2 linked regions of the Homo sapiens genome follow. Each later gene encodes a partner of the first gene's protein in a complex. Each region holds a gene or a part of one and is shown on either strand. Other genes may lie near its edges.

The links. The genes of interacting proteins can lie anywhere in the genome.
Region 2: the proteins of CAMSAP1 (region 1) and TUBB are in contact, whole or in part, in a cryo-EM structure (PDB 6QUS), measured with the Homo sapiens proteins. Residues at the interface, in NP_056262.3 of Homo sapiens: Cys1486, Cys1487, Leu1488, Ala1489, Gly1490, Lys1491, Val1492, Asn1493, Ala1519, Gly1520, Cys1521, Gln1522, Arg1562, Lys1563, Gln1564; in NP_821133.1 of Homo sapiens: Arg306, His307, Gly308, Arg309, Asn332, Asn335, Lys336, Ser338, Ser339, Tyr340, Glu343, Gln426.

The regions. Positions count from the first base shown.
Region 1 is NC_000009.12:135,820,533-135,827,554, reverse strand, and holds part of CAMSAP1 (calmodulin-regulated spectrin-associated protein 1), read left to right. Parts: coding exon 1-148; intron 149-2,674; coding exon 2,675-2,766; intron 2,767-3,520; coding exon 3,521-3,605; intron 3,606-4,294; coding exon 4,295-6,716; intron 6,717-7,022. UniProt on the Homo sapiens protein: Key microtubule-organizing protein that specifically binds the minus-end of non-centrosomal microtubules and regulates their dynamics and organization. Specifically recognizes growing microtubule minus-ends and stabilizes microtubules.
Region 2 is NC_000006.12:30,716,302-30,723,365, reverse strand, and holds the start of TUBB (tubulin beta chain), read right to left. Parts: upstream 3,015-7,064; 5' UTR 2,860-3,014; coding exon 2,803-2,859; intron 1,729-2,802; exon of another isoform or gene 1,488-1,728; coding exon of another isoform or gene 1,371-1,487; intron 830-1,370; coding exon 721-829; intron 449-720; coding exon 338-448; intron 27-337; coding exon 1-26. Other genes in the region: MDC1 (mediator of DNA damage checkpoint protein 1), read left to right, coding at 6,425-6,484. UniProt on the Homo sapiens protein: Tubulin is the major constituent of microtubules, a cylinder consisting of laterally associated linear protofilaments composed of alpha- and beta-tubulin heterodimers.

The DNA.
Region 1 (7,022 bases):
GGCCTCCTGTACCGATCTCCAACGCGACCAAACGCAGTTTCCTAGGCAGCCCTGCTGCAGGGACCCTGGCTGAGCTGCAGCCCCCCGTGCAGCTGCCGGCGGAAGGCTGTCACAGGCACTACCTGCACCCGGAAGAACCTGAATACCTGTAAGTCTGTCTTTCTGCTTTCAGAATCAGTTCACCATCTTGTGTCCCTTTTTGTGTTAGTTTAAAATATTAATTGAAGTTACCTTTTTTAAAATAAGCAATTTGTATTCGCTTATGAAAGATTTTCCTTCTGTCCCTGCCCTTCTGGCCATTCGGTCCCCTTTCCAGAGGCCGGGAATGATACTAGCAGGAAGTTCCTTCAGGGATGTGTACCTAATTCTGACATTGTTTATGGAACAGGTGTTTTTCTGTTCTCTTTTCCACCATGTGTTACACTGTTTAAGAAACGATCTAAAGATTAGAAAGTTGAATTGACAGTTTAGGTGTGCTCTTTATGGTCTGATAGACATAAAGAGTGAAATCCTCTTGCATTTCAAGTATTGTGAAGTCTTCAAAGAAGAGAATTTGTTTGCTCTTTGGGGAAGAATTAATTTGATTCGAGTGAAAAAGTGTATAGAGCTGCTTAAAGGCTAAACTACTCTAGAAAAAGAGTTGTTTAAAAAACGTTTTTTCTAAAATGAATTTTCATCATGAAGACCTAATTTGGATAACCATATCTGGGGTAGAATTGACTGTGCCAGAATTGGGGGAGGGGGTGAAGGAAGCTTCCCTTGGAGTAAGAGTGAGCTTTGTGCTGTGTGTGGTAGGAGGACCCACAGCTGATGCCAGCCTGGAGCCAGTTAGCACACCGAAAGTGGAGAAACATTTTTAACATGTGGCGATTTAAGTTGGGATTTAAGATGAAGACGCTATTTAAAAGTGGTTTTAAATAATTCACATAAGTGAATGGTTCAGTGAGACAGCATGGCATAGAACGAACTCAGTTGTTTCAGGTTGTTTGAGAGGAGCTAAAACCGGTGACCATGTTGAGGGATGGGATGCGGGGGCTGCCGGAGTCAGGAGGAAGGAGTTGAGAGGCCCTTGTGATACAGGCAGTGGTGGGGGGGTACACACCCAGGGGTGGGGCATAGCTGAGGGAGGGGTTTGGATGTGTTCTGTGTTGGGCGGCTTTGAGACTGGGGTGTCTGTCCCCAGAGCTCAGAGCAGAGGTGGGGCGGTAACTCCATGCCCGCGGGCACAGGCGGGGTCACTGAGTGAGGAGAATGGCTCGAGGCTGAGCCGTCCCTCACATGGGGCCAGCGTGGACACTTGGCGTCCTCCCTTCGGTCTTTGCGTGTCTGTTGTTGAGCCGTGTGTGTGTGTGTGTGTGTGCTGGTGCCCGTGTACACGCTGCTCTGTGACCTGCTGTCTGCACCCTGTTGTCTGCACCCAGCAGCCTGTGGTGAGAATTTTCCCACTCGGTGCATCCTCGTCTGCCACAGTTTCAACAGCTACCCAGTCTGTCACGTCATGGGCGTGCCGTGATGGGTCCACTGTCCCCACGGTGTCCAGGCTGCAGGGTTTGCATTGTGGCCCTGACACAGGTCCCTGTGCCATTCCTGCTCTGCCCAGCTTCCCCCCGGGCTCCCTGCCTTGAGCCCCTCTCTCCGCAACCCTTTCGCTTGTGTGCTCCTGCACACCTGCTCTCACTGTGTCTCTTTGGTGTCTGTGTCCTGACTCTGGTGTCCTCTGCCCGTCTTTGCCTCTTCAGGCCTAGGTGTGCTGACTCTGGCCTAGGGTGCCGAGCTGTCCCCTGTGATCTCCCCAGCCTGTCTGCACCTGGCGAATTATCCCTTTACCAAATTCTCCCCAAAGTGAAACAAGCAAGATAGCTGCCCTGCAGTGTGAGCGCGCTTGTTTCTCGGGGAGCTGGTGCCTGTGGAGTGGCAGAGGCTGCTGGGTGCCGGTCTCATGGGTGTTGCTCTGTCAGAACTGTGCGATCCGCACACGTGTGACTTCCGCCTTTCCTGCATGTGCCGTTCTTCCCGGGAGTGAGGCCTTCACACCCATGCTTCTGTGTGCACCTCTCATCGTTCTTTCTCTTAAGCTATAATCCAAGGAGTGGTAAAGGTGTGAGTGATTTTAGAGGTTTTTATGGATATTGCCATATTGTCCTCTAAAAATGTACATTTTTACCCTCCCACCAGCAGTGTGGGAATGTTCATGCTGCCGTCTGTGATGGGTTTAATTACTCATCAATATCTTCACAGTGGTGGCTTAGTACATTGGGCATCATCCTTGTGGTCTCTTTTATCTCTGAAGTTCTCTCTCTTTTTTTTAATTGAAGCAGTAATGTGCATTTTTGAAAACTGTTGCTTGTCAGAGGATCACTTTTTCTTTTTACTTTTGCTTATCTCAGAAAATCACTCTAATTGCACGCTTGGGTTTTGCTTTTCCCGTGGGAAGCTGGTTGTGTTGTAGACACATCGGGGAGTCAGTGTGCCCGTTTGCAGTGTGTGGATGTTCATCCCAGGTTGGAAGTTCCTGATACTCTTGGCTCATTTTTATTGTCATTTTTTTCCCAAACAGTCCGAGTTTCTCAAAACTTGGTGTGAATTCAGGATGGTCCTGTACACTTGTGCATTTGCTGTTGACCTTGAAGTTTGATAAAGGAATGATTTTCCCTGTAATTCTTTTTCCATTTAGCGGGAAAGGAACTGCTGCCTTCAGCCCATCCCATCCTTTATTGCCACTGAGACAGAAACAGCAGAAATCCATACAGGGAGAGGACATCCCTGGTAAGAATGTTGTTTCCTCCTTTTTTCCTTAATTTCTCCTTACTATAGATTAGTAAAATCATATTTCTCAAAATTAAATCATTTTATCTGATGTAGTGATTTTTTTGTTTGTTTGTTTGTTTTTTGAGATGGAGTCTTGCTCTGTCACCAGGCTGAAGTGCTGTGGCGCGATCTCGGCTCACTGCAGCCTCTGACTCCCTGGTTCAAGCAATTCTCCTGCCTCAGCCTCCCACATAGCTGGGATTATAGGCGCATGCCACCATGCTCAGTTAATTTTTGTATTTTTAGTAGAGACAGGGTTTCATCATGTCGGCCAGGATGGTCTCGATCTCCTAGCCTCATGATCTGCCCACCTCGGCCTCCCAGAGTGCTGGAATTACAGGTGTGAGCCACTGTGCCCGGCTGATGTAGTGATTTTAGTTAAGACTGTAGCCAAATAAATTTTAACTTGTGTTGTCAAAATGTATAGTCTTGCAGTGAAAATATCGTTGAGAGCAATTACCTTCTGTGTAGTAGACACAGAGTAACTGCGACATAAGCAGGGCTCACACATGCTGAAGCTCTCTCACAGTTCTGAACTGTGTGTTACCATCAAAATGTGGGACAACTGTATGGTTTTGCCTCTCTGCTTTCCATGCGGCCCTTCTGGTGTACTGACTTGAGAGGCATTTTTCTGGACAAATGGTCATATTGAAAGAATTTCAAGTGATAGAAAATTGGTTACTTAACACTATCTAATTCCTCTGTACTGCAGATCAGCGACATCGATCGAATTCTTTGACCCGAGTTGATGGTCAGCCTCGAGGAGCAGCAATAGCCTGGCCAGAAAAAAAAACCAGGTGAGTCTGTGTTTCAGCAGTGTTTCTGTTTGGAATGTTTTTTATACTAAACAGCAGTTCTTAAGATGTCACCCCAACCCCCTGAGGATCACCGAGACCCTTTTATAGGGAGTGCCTGAAATCAGAATTATTTTTATAACAACACTAGGAAGTTACTGCCTCTCTGCAGCCTCACTCTTGCGAGTGTGCCGTGGGATTTTTCAGAGGCTGCATACCATGTGGTGTGGCAGCAGGTGGAGTCAGGTATGAGGGTCCAGCCAGATCCCAGAACTATACAGGTGTCAAATAGTGCCTGCCCTTAACACTAGGAACTTCTTCCGTTCTGGCGAATATAGTCATTTGTCATGGAGTGGGCTAATTACTGTAATTTTAATCAGTGTTTAGAAAATGTCTGAGCTTTAATTTGTAGGATGATAAATAGAGATTAATACTGATAAATAGAAACAAAAGCTCTTTGAGGTCCTCAGTAATTTTGAAGGGTATCAAGAGGTCCTGGGACTAGAGTGTTTGAGAATCACAAAGCTGAAATTATCTCTGATTTTCTTCTGCTCTGTGGAAGAGTGAGTTTAAATCTCCTGCATATGAGAGGCGTATTCTCTTTGTGTGGCCGGCATTCTCACCCCCTGGTCCATGTTGGGGGTCTTTGGTGTATACCGCAGCGCACCCAGTGGGCCTTCCCTGTGTTTCAGGCCTGCGTCCCAGCCAACACCTTTTGCTCTACATCACGCTGCGAGTTGTGAAGTGGATCCCAGCTCTGGCGACAGCATCAGCTTGGCCCGCTCCATCAGCAAAGACAGTTTGGCATCCAACATTGTTAATCTGACCCCACAGAACCAGCCACACCCCACGGCCACGAAGAGCCACGGGAAGAGCCTCCTGAGCAATGTCAGTATTGAGGATGAGGAAGAGGAGCTTGTGGCTATTGTTAGAGCAGACGTGGTTCCCCAGCAGGCTGACCCGGAGTTCCCCAGGGCCTCACCCCGGGCCTTAGGCCTTACAGCAAATGCCCGGTCTCCCCAAGGACAGCTGGACACCTCGGAAAGTAAGCCTGACAGTTTTTTCTTGGAGCCTTTGATGCCAGCAGTTCTTAAGCCAGCGAAAGAGAAGCAGGTGATCACCAAGGAGGATGAACGGGGGGAAGGGAGACCGAGGAGCATCGTGTCTAGGAGGCCCAGCGAGGGCCCCCAGCCTTTGGTACGAAGGAAAATGACTGGCAGTCGCGACTTGAATAGGACTTTTACCCCGATTCCATGCTCAGAATTCCCCATGGGCATCGACCCCACCGAGACAGGACCACTGTCAGTGGAAACCGCAGGAGAGGTCTGTGGTGGGCCTCTGGCCCTTGGCGGATTCGATCCGTTCCCCCAGGGACCATCCACGGATGGCTTCTTCCTTCATGTAGGCAGGGCCGATGAAGACACCGAGGGAAGGTTATATGTTAGTTGTTCAAAAAGCCCCAACTCCCACGATTCAGAGCCGTGGACTCTCCTCAGGCAGGATTCTGACTCGGATGTGGTGGACATAGAGGAAGCCGAGCACGATTTCATGGGTGAGGCCCATCCTGTGGTTTTCAGCAGATACATTGGGGAGGAAGAGTCGGCCAAACTGCAGGAGGACATGAAGGTGAAGGAACATGAAGACAAAGATGACGCCAGCGGCCGCTCGAGCCCCTGCCTGAGCACAGCCTCTCAGATGAGCAGTGTCTCCATGGCGAGTGGGAGCGTGAAGATGACCAGCTTTGCGGAGAGGAAGCTCCAGAGACTCAACAGCTGTGAGACCAAGTCCAGCACCAGCAGCTCCCAGAAGACCACGCCAGATGCGTCTGAGAGCTGCCCAGCCCCTCTGACGACGTGGAGGCAGAAGAGGGAGCAGAGTCCGAGCCAGCATGGCAAGGATCCCGCCAGCCTCCTGGCATCTGAGCTGGTACAGCTGCACATGCAGCTGGAGGAGAAGCGCAGGGCCATCGAGGCCCAGAAGAAGAAGATGGAGGCGCTGTCGGCAAGGCAGCGCCTGAAGCTCGGCAAGGCTGCATTCCTGCATGTGGTGAAGAAGGGCAAGGCCGAGGCTGCCCCACCCCTCAGGCCGGAGCACTTTGCAAAGGAGTACTCTCAGCACAACGGGGAGGACTGTGGGGACGCTGTTTCCAAAACCGAAGACTTTCTCGTGAAGGAGGAGCAGAGAGAGGAGCTCCTTCACGAGCCACAGGATGTGGACAAAGAGAGCCTGGCCTTTGCTCAGCAACATAAAGCAAAAGACCCTGTGGCTCTGCACGAGCTGGAGAGAAATAAGGTGATCTCCGCTGCCCTCCTGGAGGACACTGTTGGGGAGGTTGTCGACGTGAATGAATGTGACCTTTCCATCGAGAAGCTTAACGAAACCATCAGTACGCTGCAGCAGGCCATCCTGAAAATCTCTCAGCAGCAAGAGCAGCTTCTGATGAAGTCCCCCACAGTCCCAGTGCCAGGCTCTAAGAATAACTCGCAGGACCACAAAGTGAAGGCACCAGTCCACTTCGTGGAGCCACTCTCTCCCACGGGCGTGGCTGGCCACCGCAAAGCCCCCCGGCTGGGTCAAGGCCGGAATTCCCGTTCCGGAAGGCCGGCGGAGCTGAAGGTCCCAAAAGACAGGCCACAGGGCTCCTCCCGAAGTAAAACCCCAACGCCCAGTGTAGAGACGCTCCCGCACTTGAGACCCTTCCCTGCCAGCAGCCACCCTCGGACGCCCACGGACCCTGGCCTGGACAGTGCCCTGGAGCCCAGTGGTGACCCACATGGGAAGTGTCTCTTCGACAGTTACAGGCTCCATGATGAAAGCAATCAGCGGACACTTACTCTGTCCTCTTCCAAAGATGCCAACATTCTTTCGGAGCAGATGAGCCTCAAAGAAGTTCTGGATGCGAGTGTGAAGGAGGTGGGGTCCAGCTCCTCAGATGTCTCGGGAAAAGAGAGCGTCCCCGTGGAGGAGCCTCTGAGGAGCAGGGCCAGCCTCATTGAAGTGGACCTCTCCGACCTGAAGGCCCCCGACGAGGATGGGGAGCTGGTAAGCCTCGATGGCTCGGCGGACCTTGTCAGCGAAGGCGACCAGAAGCCGGGGGTCGGCTTCTTCTTCAAGGTAAGGGATTGGTAGCATCTGTTTCAGGCACTCGTGATGTGTTGCCACCCCACGTGATAGTGAGTTAGAGAACACAGATCTGCACCAGGCTGGCCAGCCGCTCCTGTAAGAGGCCAGGGGATGTGTGTGTTTAGCTTTGTGGGCCACAGAGTCTCTGTCCCGAGGACTCCACTTGGCCAGAAGCAGTCCCGGGCAATACGCATGCAAGTGAGCGTGGTGTGGCTGAGACGACTTTGTTATGAGCCCTGAAACTGGAATTTCATGTGATTTTCAACATAGTTTTTTTTTTTTTGCTGGTTTTCCAGT
Region 2 (7,064 bases), on another chromosome or scaffold:
CCAGTTGTTACCTGCCCCAGACTGACCTGGAATGCAGTCAGGAGAAAAGCTCAATTAACAGGGTATGGAAGATACATGATGTTTCCATCTTTCAACTTTTCAAATAATTCCCTCGGATGTATCTTCTTTCTCCTTCACTGTGATATATTCTCCCCCTACTGCCCCATAATTTACCAGCAATAGTAGGCACTACCTCTACCCTCCGTTAGATTTCAGAACACATTTCTGTATTAGCACTCCAATACAACAATCATCTCCTAACTTTTGCTGTGTCCTTGCACCCAAATAAGTTGAACACGATGGTATATCATCTGCTAATATCATCTGTATAACTCACCAAATACAAAGTTGTCTGGTCTAAAGATCTGGCCAAAAGGACCTGAGCGAACAGAGTCCATGGTCCCAGGTTCTAGATCCACCAGGATGGCACGAGGAACATATTTGCCACCTACAGAGAATAAAGTTAAGAGCTGTGAAATCTGGCAGAAGGGAAGGTTTATAGATATACTGGAAATGGGAGACAGCAGGGATCAGAGACTTGTCATTCCAGGTCCCGCCACCAGGTGGCAGCAGACGTCTTTGGCCCCGACGGTGGTTCACGAAAGGGACAAAATGACAGATTCACCCAAAGGGGATAAGGCGTGCCCAGAAATGGAAAGAGATCCCAGATAAGTGGGAGACAGGGAAGGGAACCTGAGCTGCCCGGGCTCCTGCCCTTACCTGTGGCTTCATTGTAGTACACAGAGATGCGGTCCAGCTGCAGGTCGCTGTCCCCGTGGTAGGTGCCGGTGGGGTCGATGCCATGTTCATCACTGATCACCTCCCAGAACTGCCGAGGGGGAGCAACGAGACCACAACAGGTCAAGTCCCAGCCAACTATGTCCCCAACTACCATTTTATTTCATCTTTTTCTTAATTTTTTTTGAGACGGAGTCTCGCTCTGTCACCAGGCTGGAGTGCAGTGGCGCTATCTCGGCTCACTGCAACCTCTGCTTCCCGGGTTCAAGCGATTCTCCTGCCTCAGCCCCCGGAGTAGCTGGGACTATAGGCGCGCACCAACACGCCCAGCTACTTTTTGTATTTTTAGTAGAGACGGGTTTCACCATGTTGGCCAGGATGGTCTAGATCTCTTGACCTCGTGATCCGCCCACCTTGGCCTCCCAAAGTGCTGGGATTACAAGGGTGAGCCACCGCGCCCAGCTTCTTCTAATTTTTAAGACAGGGTCTTCCTGTTGCCCAGCCTGCAGTGCAGTGGTGCAATCACGGATGACTACAGCGTGGAACTCCCAGGCTCAACCGATCCTCCCATCTCAGCCTCTCGAGTAGCTGGGACCACAGACGCGCGCCACCACGCCCAGCTAATTTTTTACTTTTATTTTTTGTAGAAACGTGGCATGGGGGAGGGTCTCGCTTTGTTGCCCAGGATGGTCTCGAACCCCTGACCTGGAGGGATCCCAATTCGCCCACCTCGGCCCCACATCTCCCATTTTAATTCCACAAGCGCTCAGGCCGTTGTTCTAGGGCATGGCATCCCGTGGGCCTGCCACACCCTTCCCCTAGACACTCGCTCCCCCGAGAAAGCCACAGCTTTCCCTGCTCTGGATATGTGCAGCGGGTCCCAAGTGCTCGGTGGGCGGATGGAGGTCGACCACACTTCGATAAGCGCCGCTCTCCTTCCCCCAAGCTGGGCACCGCCCCACCGCGCGGCGCACAAAAGGCTGGGGGTCTGAGGAAAGAGCTGCCGCCGCAGTCGACCACCCCCCCCGCCCTCCACGTGACTGCGGCGCACGCGCAGGTCGAGCCGCCGACAAAAGACTTCGCGCGTGGGCGGGGCCAGGGACAAAAATTCCGCGCGCGAGGGGCGGGGCCCAAGGTAGCGCGCCCCTGCCGGCGGGCAACGCCGCATTGTCCCCGCGCGCCCACGGCGCCCCGGCCCCGCCCCGCAGGGCCCCGCCCTTCTGCTACAACGTAGCAGCCGCACTTCCTCCCGCCCCTCCCCCGCTACACTGTAACCGCGCGCAAAAAAAAAAAATCCCCCTTGGCCTCGGAATTTTTATTCCTTCGCTACATTTCTACCCCTTGATTTAAAGGATTCTTTCTCTCCCATTAAGTCCTGAGGGACTCATTAAAGAAAACCACACACCCCCATTTTCTCGACATATCTGTTCACGCCCTAAAAAAGTCTCTCTTAGGGGCCATGAAAGCAAGTAAAATTAATCCCGTTCTTATTCTCCTTCCACCCAGGAACAAATACAGGACCGGCCCTCTGGGGTCGCGGGCGCGTTGGGGTCCCTGGTCTTTTGTGAAAGGTAGCGCCCAGCGCAGCCCACCCTGGCGCATCGCCCCCCACCCTTGCGCTGGAGCTCTCTGCAGCCGCCCGATGGCCTCACCCCTTCCCGCTCCGGTTTGGCCCTAAGTACCCCGCAGGGGGGTTGGGCGGGATGCACATGGGCAAAACCTCGCCCCGCTTTGTCTGCGACCGTTTCCGCATCTCTCTCCCTGCCCGGTTCTCGGACCGTTAGAAGCCCTTTTAAGTAACATCTTATAAGTCCTCGGTCTTCCCGCCCCCAAACCCGAAGAGCCCTTTTACTAGTTTCTCCAAAATGTGCCTGCCAAGAAAAATGATTCCCAGCTTTCCAAAGGCAAATGCTAGCTACAATTGTTATATATATAAATGTAACAAACTTGAGAGGGGCAAATCTTGATTAAGGATAGCGGGTGCAAATGCCCCACAACCATTTTTTCATAACTTACCTGGATTTTTCCTTGTAAAAAGAAATAAAAGAGGTGTAAAATTCTTACCTTGGCACCGATCTGGTTGCCACACTGACCAGCCTGGATGTGCACGATTTCCCTCATGGTTAAAATTTAATTTTTTTGCTCGCCTCAAGGTATGTATGGGGCAAGAAAATAAGTAATTTTTTTTCTCCGCAGGTCGCAGGCTGGAAGGTTGGAATGCGCCCCAGAGGCTGGAGCAGCGAGGTGCAAACGCGACGGCAGGAAGGTTCTGAGAGGGAGAAAGGAGAGGGGAGGGCGCGGAGGGAAAGCAGGCTGGGCGGGGCGCGCGTGCGCCGGGGCTGGGAGGCGGGAGAATCGGCCCCGCGCGCGGTAGGGAGACAAAGCCTCATCGAGCCTGGCCCTGATTAGTCGATGCCGGTCATGTACCAGGCGTCCATTGGCCTCTGAGCCAGTGGACGAGCGCAGTCCTCTTTGGGAGTTGTAGTCCCCTATTGTTGTCCATGCTGCAAAATGAAGTGACGAATGGGTGGGTACCGGTTTGGTTTTCATGGGGTTTTTGTTTTGTAAATGAAAAACGACCTTGCGCAAGATTCCTTTCCTCTATGCCTGAGGTTTTTGTACAAAAAGTGAGCAGTTCTTGGGGGTACAGGAATTGAGAAGTCTGGGGTTCCAGAAGTTGGGTGGTGGGGAAGACACGCCCTGAAAGCTCCCAGCTGCAGTACCTCTAGGGGAGAAAGGATTGCTTAGTTCAGCGAAAAATGGGGAGAAGTCTGGCACCGTGCTCTGCCTCCCCTGGCCTTTGGTGACCCAAGGCATGAACTTCAGTAAGCTTCTGCTCCCTCAAATACTTCAAGAAGGGAATCGCCCTCTTGCTATTTCCTTGGAAATTTTCGAGCCATTGTTTTGAAAGAGAAACAAAATTGCAGCAAGGGCTTTTCAGGATAGCGATGTTGTCTGGAGAGTATGTTCAAAGAATAAAATAGTTTAGAGAAACCGACATCGGGGATTTGTGAAACTAGAAGTCTCCTACGTGGGTAGGAGATCTGGACCTTAGGGCAGACTTTGAAGACACCTTGGTCTTCTTGTCAAACAGGGAACTATGGAATGAGATGCCTGATAGATTTTCAGTTTTTTCAGCCTGCCTCTTTAGACATGTTAATGAAGTCAGTGGTTTTTCAATTCGCTGATTTCACTGACCAGGTGGCCGCCACTGCAACTCTGCAAGAGACCCAGTATTGAAAAACGAGAGAGGGGTAATTGATGGGGGAAAAATTGAGTGGGTTCAAGACGGAGTCCATCTGCTTCTTCCCATAGATTTATTATTCACTTATTTGATAGTTACTATGTATCCACCAAATTAGGAGCTATGGTTACAAAATGATTAAGAATTAGCTCCCTGTCCTCCAGGATGTTGCAGTCTGGTGAGAAGCATACAATCAATAAAATGTGGTAACCACTCAGAAATGTAGTATCAAGTCAACGTCATTGTTAATTCACATTCGATCACACAGATCAATGTATTTCTTTTTTTTTTTTTTGTATTTTTAGTAGAGACAGGGTTTCACTGTGTTAGCCAGGATGGTCTCGATCTCCTCACCTCGTGATTCGCCCGCCTTTGCCTCCCAAAGTGCTGGGATTACAGGCGTGAGCCACCGCGCTGGGCAGATCAATGTATTTCTAAGTTGCCTTCTAAATGAGGGAACATCAACTTGTGTAAGCCCTCTCTACCCACTTAAAATATAATGCTTTACGTTTTAGGGAAATGAACACAGTCATTTTGTGGGAGTAGAAATAACTCAAAATACACAATCAGATAACTTGTTTCAATTTGTCTCTATATTAGCTGTAGGATCCTAGGAAAGTCCTTTAACTTTGCAGGGCTCCAGCTCCTCGTTTGTAAAATCTGCTTATTTGACTGTTGTGCACAGAATTGAGATAACCAACAGAAAGGACTTTATGAATTATGCAAGTGTTATAGTTACCATTTTCTTCATGTCTTATTGTGAGATAAAATAGGCCGGGCGCAGTGGCTTACGCCTGTAATCCCAGCACATTGGGAGGCCCAGGCGGGAGAATCACCTGAGGTCCGGAGTTTGAGACCAGACTGACCAACATGGAGAAACCCCGTCTCTACTAAAAATACAAAATTAGCCGGGCGTGGTAGCGCATGCCTGTAATCCCAGCTACTCGGGAGGCTGAGACAGGAGAATTGCTTGAACCCAGAAGGCGGAGGTTGCGGTGAGTCGAGATCGCGCCATTGCACTCCAGCCTAGGCAACAAGAGCGAAAGTCCGTCTCAAAAAATAAAATATAGATGGCCGCATGCGGTGGTTTACGCCTGTAATCCCACCACTTTGAGAGGCCGAGGCGGGCGGATCACCTGAGGTCAGAAGTTCGAGACCAGCCTGACCAACATGGAGAAACCACGTCTCTACTAAAAATACAAAAATAAGCTGGGCGTGGTGGCGCATGCCTGTAATCCCAGCTACTTGGGAGGTTGAGGCAGGAGAATCGCTTGAACCTGGGAGGCAGAGGTTGCGGTGAGTCGAGATCGCGCCATTGCACTCCAGCCTGGGCAACAAGAGCAAAACTCCATCTCAAAAAATAGATAAATTAGTTAATTAAAAAATAAAAATAAATGATTTTATGATCCTTCCCTCGCCCCTCGAAAGGTGGGGACAGCCTTTAAGACAGAGAGCAAACCAGTTTTCTCTGTTCGACTACAGATCTTTAGGATCTTGGATTTAAGAAAATGACCTCAAAATGTCCGTCAGAGACGTATTCCCAGGAAGAAAGATATTACTTCTACTACAAACCAAATCAAAAGGAAATGAAATTCCAATGCAACAGGAGTGAACTGCCACGCCTACGGGCTGTTCTCCAAACTGCAGCCTCCAGCCACGACTGCAACGCGCAACCCACTTTCATTTCTCATGAGTCAGCGGACACCATGTCTAGGAGGACCGAGGAAAGGCGCTCTGGCCTTACCAGACACGTCGGACGTCTATGACACAGCCCCTCTATCCGTTGCCGGCAGCTGGCGCCAGACTCTCTGGTCGCGGTTTGGAACTGCGCGGGAAGTGGGTGGTGGGCGGGCAAGCGGTAGTGGGTTGTCCCTTGGAGCTGCCCAATCGACGTGCATTATTCTGTTGGCGCACGGCGGCCTTCAATTACCGTCTCATTAACTGATCTCAGCAGCCTGGGAGACACCACCTATTTGAACTCTAAGGGGGCGGGGCTTTGGGTGTGCCTCCGCTCGACTGGCTGCGGTTGTGAAAGACAGCGGCAGAAGCCAATCAGCAAATAAGCTCTTTTTCGGCACACGCAGTCGCTCCACCTGGGTCGCGACCGTTACTGGTGGCGCGCGCGGGGACTTAAAGTAGGTGAGTTCTAGGGGCCTGGCCCACGGCTCCCCGGGAGCCATCTTGGTTCCCCCAGAAGGCGGGAGGGGCGTACCTTGGGTGCGACTGGGCGGAGGTGACTTGGAAGTTCGCTTCTCGGACTGTAATACTCATCCTTACCTGGCGCCCCGCTCCGAGTTTAGGTATGAAGACACAGGGAGACGTCGGGCCACAAGGGAACCCACTGAGGTGGGGACCAAAGATGGTGGCTCTTTGAATTGGAGCCAAGCGTGGTGGGCACCCGCTGAGTTGGCCTGTCATAAAGACGGAGTTGACACTTTATCCATGGGGCATCCTACTTTCCCTACCTGTCAACAGTTTCCCTCTAGAGTGGCATATTTTCAGGTGAATTCCATTTATGCTATTTTCTTTCCATCTCATTTGTTCCTTCATCAGTAGGCTCGGTGATGAGCCTTCCCGAGGGCAGGGTCGATTTCATGTTTGGTTCACAGATGTATACCAAATACTTCAAACAGGTATACCATAACCATTGAATGAATATGATGGACCCTAGGGGAAAGACACGGTTCCCCTAATCCAGTCCTGGAGGTGGGTGAGTGTGAAGGCAGAAATGGAAAGTAATGGTTACAATATAGCGAGAGATCTTAGAGTAAGCACAAATCCATTGACCACTGTGGAACAGGCAGGATACACCAGGAACACGAGAAGGCAGGGAACACGCCAGGAAAGGGTTTGCTGAGAAAGTGACATTTGAGGCCGGGCGCGGTTGCTCACTGCTGTAATCCCAACACTTTGGGTGGCCAAGGTGGGCGGATCACCTGAGGTCAGGAGCTCGAGACCGTGGTGAAACCCCGTCTCTACTAAAAATACAAAAATTAGCCAGGCGTGATGCCGGGCGCCTGTAATCCCAGCTGCTCGGGAGGCTGAGGCAGGAGAATCGCTTGAAGCCTGGAGGCAGAGGTTG